Homo sapiens: one gene and its partner. The protein of the gene in region 1 purifies or fractionates together with the protein of each later gene. This does not show direct contact. Each region holds a gene or a part of one and is shown in the gene's direction. Other genes may lie near its edges. The genes, in order: SLC7A13 and ATL2.

The links.
Region 2: the proteins of SLC7A13 (region 1) and ATL2 purify together in Homo sapiens (affinity purification with mass spectrometry; one large-scale study listed by BioGRID and IntAct). This does not show direct contact.

Annotation. Positions count from the first base shown.
Region 1 is NC_000008.11:86,213,269-86,217,003, reverse strand, and holds the end of SLC7A13 (solute carrier family 7 member 13), read left to right. Parts: intron 1-2,357; coding exon 2,358-2,591; 3' UTR 2,592-2,941; downstream 2,942-3,735. UniProt on the Homo sapiens protein: Associates with SLC3A1/rBAT to form a functional heterodimeric complex that transports anionic and neutral amino acids across the apical plasma membrane of renal epithelium.
Region 2 is NC_000002.12:38,307,650-38,311,474, reverse strand, and holds part of ATL2 (atlastin-2), read left to right. Parts: intron 1-1,027; coding exon 1,028-1,166; intron 1,167-1,968; coding exon 1,969-2,096; intron 2,097-3,825. UniProt on the Homo sapiens protein: Atlastin-2 (ATL2) is a membrane-anchored GTPase that mediates the GTP-dependent fusion of endoplasmic reticulum (ER) membranes, maintaining the continuous ER network. It facilitates the formation of three-way junctions where ER tubules intersect.

The DNA of each region.
Region 1 (3,735 bases):
TGGATGAAAAAACTTTTCACAGGAGAGGAGACAACCACTTAATTGTAGAAAAGGAAATAAGCAGCAAAACTTGGTAGCATAAGAACGTTATTGGAGAAAGATGGCCCTGACGGTCTGATTATCAGAATAATAAAATAATCTTAGTTGCCTAGGTAGGATGTTCAAAGCTTTGCTTGGATGATCACCTTTAATCCTCTTAGTAATAAAAAGGTGGATTCAATTGTTATTTCCATTTTACAGATAAGAAAACAGATTTAGAAAAGTTAGGTCACTTGCTCAAGCTCACACAGCATGGATTAGAGCCAAGATTCAAATCTAGGCAGTCTCTTTGGAGTGTTTAAATCTTGCTAAATACAAAATATAAGAAAGAACTGCTGAGAGAAAGAAAGCAATGTTCTCATCACCAACTATGGTTGATTTATGTCCTTCCTTTCCAGTCTTCTTTCCAACTTCTTCCAACCAGTCATCTCTTAATTGTTGTGTGTTTGAGTATTAGTTGTCAAGAAGCAACTATATTTTAAGCACCTTGCTAGGTACTTTCAGTAGAAAAAGAATTAAGACTTGGCTCCTGCTTTTAGGCAGGTTATAATCTATCTGGACAGTCATGTAAACCAAAAATCACGGTGTGACGATTGCTACCTAGTGGTCTGCAGAGGATGCTCAGAGAGCACATAGGGAGAGAGATCTAATCTAGAGCAGGGCTGATGGCCACAGTCCCCCTTGGAGGTGCCTGCCTAACGTCTGCTTTCTGTATAGTTTCACATGCTGCATCTTTTTAACATGTCTTTTGCTGTTTTCTGATCCACATTTTGTTAGATCACTGACCCTAATAGATACAATTATAAAGAAGTTATGAACTGGAGGATAAATTTGTTATATACAAATAACAGTATAAGATAATCATTAAGAGTTTTGGGCTCAAGTCCAGTTGCTTGGCTAGTAGCTGAGTTTAGTCTTGTTATTGAACCTCTGAACCTCAGTTTCTTCCGATCTAAAATGGGAAAAAATAATACCTACCTCATATTAACGTTGGAGGTATTAAGTAAGCTAAGGCATGCAAACAATCCAGGGTCTGACATTGATGGCTATTATTGCTTATATTATTATTCAACTTACATTTGCATCAGAAAGGAAGGCAAGGGCAGCCTTAAGTACAAGTGGCTGAAATTTGTCTTGTATGCCCCCAGGAGTGCTCTTTTCTTTTCTCTCAGTTATTTGATAACTGATACTGAGCCATGAGATGATAAAGTATCTTTTTCTGGGACGCTTTATAAGCTAAGAAGAGATTCTTTGTTTTTTCTTTTTTTTGAGACAGAGTCTCATTCTTGTCGTCCAGGCTGGAGAAGCTGGAGTGCAGTGGCATGATCTTGGCTTGCTGCAACCTCTGCTTCCTGGGTTCAAGAGATTCTCCTGCCTCAGCCTCCCAAGTAGCTGGGATTACAGGTGCCTGCCACCACACCCAGCTAACTTTTGTAATTTTAGTAGAGACGGTGTTTCACCATGTTGCCCAGGCTGATCTCGATCTCCTGATCTCGTGATCCATCCACCTTGACCTCACAAAGTGTTGGGATTATAGGCGTAAGCAACTGTGCCCGGCCAAGAAGATATTCTTAATGATTAAATCCCAACAAATGATCCTCTAATTAAAGGGTTTTGTTTCATAAATTATGACTAGCTGTGTAATATATATCTTTGGGGAATATAGATTCATATCAGTTATATCTTATATCGATTTTCTCCCTAGATTGGGTAATGTTGTAGAGAACTCTTACAATTCTAACACAAAGCAGGTACCAGGGACTGGTCTTTAAGGCTTTTGGCAAAGCAAAAACAAAACATAAAACAGGGAAAATTGTTTTAGCTAAAATTTTTGTCTTGATTTTTTTTTTAATATGCTGAGCCTATAAAGTTACAACATTTACCTGTCAGTATTTACCTGTGTAACAGACAGTCTGAGGATAGTCTTTCTGTTTTGTCATGAATTTCTTACTGCCTTGAGATATTTTCCAGAGAAGATTGTTGTTACTTCCATTGGGCCTTAGAAACTCCCTCTTAACAGATTCATGGTACCCAGATCAGTAGATAGTGATCTTACCAGCAAATGGTTCTAGTTATTTCCATTCATGAGCAGTCAAATGCTAGATGCCCATTCCCTCCAACCTGACAATGACAGTCTTCAACATCTCCTTTCACTCAGGCATTTATCTGACTTCTAAGCCAGATTTATTCAACTTTACAGCTAATTTAGCCTGTTTTCTTTAATTAGCTTGTATCTTTGCATTTTTATTTATATGAATATGCAGGTATCATTCATGGATGTTCATATCCAATATTTTTTCAAACTTTGCTCTTTTCAGGTGTTTTTGTCATTTCCATTAGCAACAATAGTCATCGACGTGGGCTTGGTTGTGATACCATTGGTAAAGTCTCCAAATGTGCATTATGTCTACGTGCTTCTGTTAGTTCTCAGCGGATTACTATTTTACATACCTTTAATACATTTTAAAATAAGATTGGCTTGGTTTGAGAAGATGACTTGCTATTTACAATTACTATTTAATATTTGCCTCCCTGATGTGTCTGAGGAATAGATGTCGGAAGTGCAAACTCTTAAAAAATTGGCCTTCTAAAAAACATATATCAGATTCCAAATCAAGGTTAAACATATGATAGAACATTCATGGTGAAATTCCTATGGTAAATATTTTTTTCTCAAATGAAATAAGTAATGTATACAAAAGTGCCTAAGACAGTACCTGGCTTCAGAGTCACTAAGAAATTGCTAAAAGCTCTGCTTCGCATGGTAAAAAACTTAAGTCCTGGTTTGCGTAGCTTGATAGAGTGATTATACAACTTCCATTCTCTCACTTTTTTTTTCTGTATCCCACCCCTTTTCTACTGAATTTGTGGGGATCCTATAATAAAAGTGAATGACTAAAAATTTTAAAAGCATTCCTTCTCTTCATCTTACTGAGTCCTTTTTGTGTGAGGTGGGCGGGGCCGGGGAAGATGCTGATTTGAAAATGAAAAGAATAATTCCATTTTTCAGTTGGCTTTTCCCTTCCAGAATGTAGCACTTTTTTTTTTCTTTTTGAGATGGAGTCTCACTCTGTCGCCCAGGCTGGAGTGCAGTGGTGTGATCTCTGCTCACTGCAACCTCCACCTCCTGGGTTCAAGAGATTCTCCTGCCTCAGCCTCCCGAGTAGCTGGGATTATAGGCACCTGCCACTATACCCAGCTGATTTTTGTATTTTTGGCAGAGACTGAGTTTCACCATATTGGCTAGGCTGGTCTCAAACTCCTGAACTTGTGATTCGCCCACCTCGGGCTCCCAAAGTGTTGGGATTACAGGCATGGGCCGCTGTGCCTGGCCCCATTTTTTTTCAAGCTAATAACTATTTTAGAAGCATGGGGCTGGGTGAGGTAGCTCATGCCTGTAATCCCAGCACTTTAGAAGGCTGAGACAGGTGGATTACTTGAGGTTAGGAGTTCGAGGCCAGCCTGGCCAACATGATGAAAACCCGTCTCTACCAAAAATACAAAATGAGCTGGGTGTGGTGGTGTGCACCTGTAATCACAGCTACTTGGGAGGCTGAGGCAGGATAATCGTTTGAACTCGGGAGGTGGAGGTTGCAGTGAACTGAGATCGTGCCACTGCACTCCAGCCTGGTTGACAGAGTGAGACTCTGTCTCAAAAAAATAAGAAGCGTGAATCTTTAGGTTAATTTTCTTTGA
Region 2 (3,825 bases), on another chromosome or scaffold:
CTGTTGATGGGAGATTTAGGTAGTTTCCAGGTTTTAATTATAAATAGCGCATATTTTGTTAAAATTGTTTTCCAGAAGAGTGTTTAGGAGACTGTGTGAGTTATATTGGGATAAATGAGTAATTATCTAAAATGTTTCTAAGTTTAAGATTTTTTTCCCCCTAATACATGGCAGTTTCCCTTCTCAAAATTCTGGTAACTAGCATAAATCATAAATAATCATGTAGAGAGGGACCTGAAATTCTAACACATTTCTAAGGTCTTTGTACTGCACTGTAATTTTTTTTATCTTAGCTTTTACTTTGTTCAGGGGCTAAACTTTTTATTTGTAGGCAAATTTATACTTTTTTTTTTGTTTTGTTCTGTTTTGTTGCTGTTGTAAGTACTTTAAAGGTAAATTCTTAATTTATTTACTGGTGTATAAGTCACAGCCATAATTTGTTATTTGGTTATTAGATACTGTGATTAACTACCTTATTTGTAGTTTTTGCTGTTCCAGGCAGCTTACTTGGGAAAAACATCTTTTGTGGTTTAAGAAAATGTGGGGTTGGCTGGGTGCGGTGGCTCATGCCTGTAATCCCAGCACTTTGGGAGGCCGAGGCGGGTGGATTACCTGAGGTTGGAAGTTCAAGATCAGCCTGACCAACCCTGTCTCTACTAAAAATACAAAATTAGCCGGGCATGGTGGTGCACGCCTGTAATCCCAGCTACTCGGGAGGCTGAGGCAGGAGAATCACTTGAACCTGGGAGGCGGAGGTTGCGGTGAGCCGAGATTGCACCATTGCACTCCAGCCTGGGCAACAAGAGCGAAACTCTGTCTTTAAAAAAAAAAAAAAAAAAAAAAAAGTGGGGTCTTAACAAAGTGGTCAGAAATGGGCCTTCATAATTTTTTGTATTGTCAAAAAAGACTCCTTAGGAGTACCATCTGAGTTAAGTGTGCATAGTGTGCATGCGAGTCTGTGTGCATTTTCTTTAAAAAAATTTTCTTTCTTCTGTTTACAATTTCACCTGTCTCTCTCCGCCCTCAGGTAAAACAAAATCAACATGAAGAGCTTCAGAATGTAAGGAAGCACATACACAATTGTTTCTCAAATCTTGGTTGCTTCCTTTTGCCACATCCTGGTCTTAAAGTTGCAACTAATCCTAGTTTTGATGGGAGATTGAAAGGTGGGAATTCCCATTCTTGCTAAAATCTGAACTTATTTATTAGAGGTGGAAAGTTTTTTAAGAAAATACATGACGCCTTAAATGTCCTGTCTTATACTGGAGAATGTTTGGATGCATTGTTCATGTTGTGGTTGTAATGCTCTGTGTTGTTTCTCTAGCATTCCATTGATTTGTTTGCAGCTGTCTAGCATATTGATTAACCTATTTTATAATGTCTGTTGCTCAGCAGTGATGTCCTGAAAATTCTGAAGGCTGAGAGCATTTCTTTTCAATTGATTGCAGTCTGCTAAAAGGCTTTATCATTTTATTATATTGATGAAATCAGATATAAGTGTCTGTTTCAGGAGTGATAGTACAGTTTATGTATGTTGTAGGATTATTTTGAGTGTGTTGGCAAAACATTTGGGGATTGACAAAACTTTTACAGTATGGCTGGTAAAACATAATCTAGTAGTAAAATTTAATACAATTTTATGAATTGTTTGCCTCTTGAAAAGGACATTTTCGTTAATACTAAATGTGAAATTTGTCTTGGTAGTCCACAAATTTATTGATGTTTTATTTGTTATTTGAACTGGCAGTGTTACTAGGGGGTTGGGGAAAATGGGCTAGTAGAGTAAGGGGGATTATATTTTTTCCTATGAGATATGGCATGTTGGATGAGCTTTTTTTTAAAAAATGAATCCACTTCAGTAATAGATACTATGTATTCTTATTTCATAAAACAGAATTTTATGAAATCGTACCAGTGGGGACCTAATTTTTTTTGGACTAATATGTTGCTCAATTTTTTGTTTTCTAGATATTGATGAAGACTTTAAACGAGAGCTTCGAAATCTGGTTCCATTGCTGCTTGCCCCTGAAAATTTGGTAGAAAAAGAGATAAGTGGATCTAAAGTCACTTGTAGAGATCTTGTAGAATATTTTAAGGTAGGTGAGCTCTTAAACAGTTTTGTCTAAGATAGAAATGTAGTTGACTTAAAACTCATCTGTATGTATAAGAAATTTCTTGTCTTTATTTTAAAACAAAAAAGAGTAAGATTTGTGATTTATCTTTCTGCCTTGAATTAGATGTATCTGTATTTAAGGATATTTAAAAGATTATAGCAGATTTCTGTCTCCTAGACAGTGATTTAATTTATTTACAGAATTATCTTACTTTTTCTCCATCTCAGATATGGAGAGAACAAGCCATTCATCATACTCTAATACTACTCTGTCATTAGTGAATGATAATAGGAATGGAAAGCATAATTTTACATCCTAAGTTCTCACAAAAACACTCCCTCAGAGTTCTGAGGACTTGATAAGAACAGCTGAAAGTATTTATATTGGTTCAAGTAAAGTACTCTTAGGTTTTTTTTTTTTCCCTCTGTTCTTCTCTAGTCTTTATAGCTTGCCTGCCAGAACAAGACCGCTGTGGAAGGTTGTATTATTTGTAGTAGTTTTAACTAAGAGTGTATTTTGTTCACTTATTGGATACTTGATAGTTACTCTCATATTATCTTTGTTTAGTTATGAATGAATTTTTTAAAATTTATTTTTACTTTTAATTTTTAATTTTTGTGGGTACGTAGTATATATACTTATGGGGTACATGAGATATTTTTGATACAGGCATACAATGTCTAATAATCATATTAGAGTAAATAGGGTGTCCATCACCTCAAGCCTGTATCCCTTCCTTATGTTACAGACAATCCAATTATACTCTTTGTTATTTTAAAATGTATAGTAAGTTATTATTGACTGTAACTACATTGTTATGCTATCAAATACTAGATCTTATTCTAACTATATTTTTGTACCCATTAACCATCTCTGCCTCCCCTCCACCCTCTGACTACCTTTCCTAGACTCTAGTAACCATCTTTCTAGTACTCTCTATCGCATGAGTTCAGTTGTTTAAATTTTTAGCTCCCACAAATAAGTGAGAACATGTGAAGTTTGTTTTTTCTGTGTCTGGCTTATTTCACTTAACATAAAGTCCTCCAGTTCCACCATGTTGTTGGAAATGACAGGATCTCATTCTTTTATATGGATGAGTAGTACTTCATCGTGTATATGTACCACATTTCTTTATCCATTCGTATATTGATAGACACAGGTTGCTTCCAAATTGTAGCTGTAGTGACTAGTGCTGCAGTAAACATGAAAGTGCAGATGTATCTTCTATATACTGATTTTTTTCTTTTGGGTATATACCTAGCAGCAGCATTGCTGGATCATATGGTCGTTTTATTTTTAGTCTTTTGAGGAACCCCCAAACTGTTCTCCATAGTGGTTGTACTAATTTACCTTTCTGCCAACAGTGTACGAAGATTCCCTTTTCTCTACATCCTTGCCAACATTTGTTATTGCCTGTCTTTTGGATAAAAACAATTTTAAATGGAGAAAGATGATATCTTTCTGTAGTTTTGATTTGCATTTCTCTGATGATCAGTGATGTTTTCATATCCTGTATCCCATTTGTTTGTCTCCTTTTGAGAAATGTCTGTTCAGATCTTTTGCCCGTTTTTTGATCAGATCATTTGATTTTTTTTTCTTTTCCCTGTAGAGTTGTTTGAACTCCTTATATAGTCTGGTTACTAATCCCTTATCAGACTAGTAGTTTGCAAATGTCTTCTCCCAGTCTGTGGGTTGCGTCTTCACTTTTCTG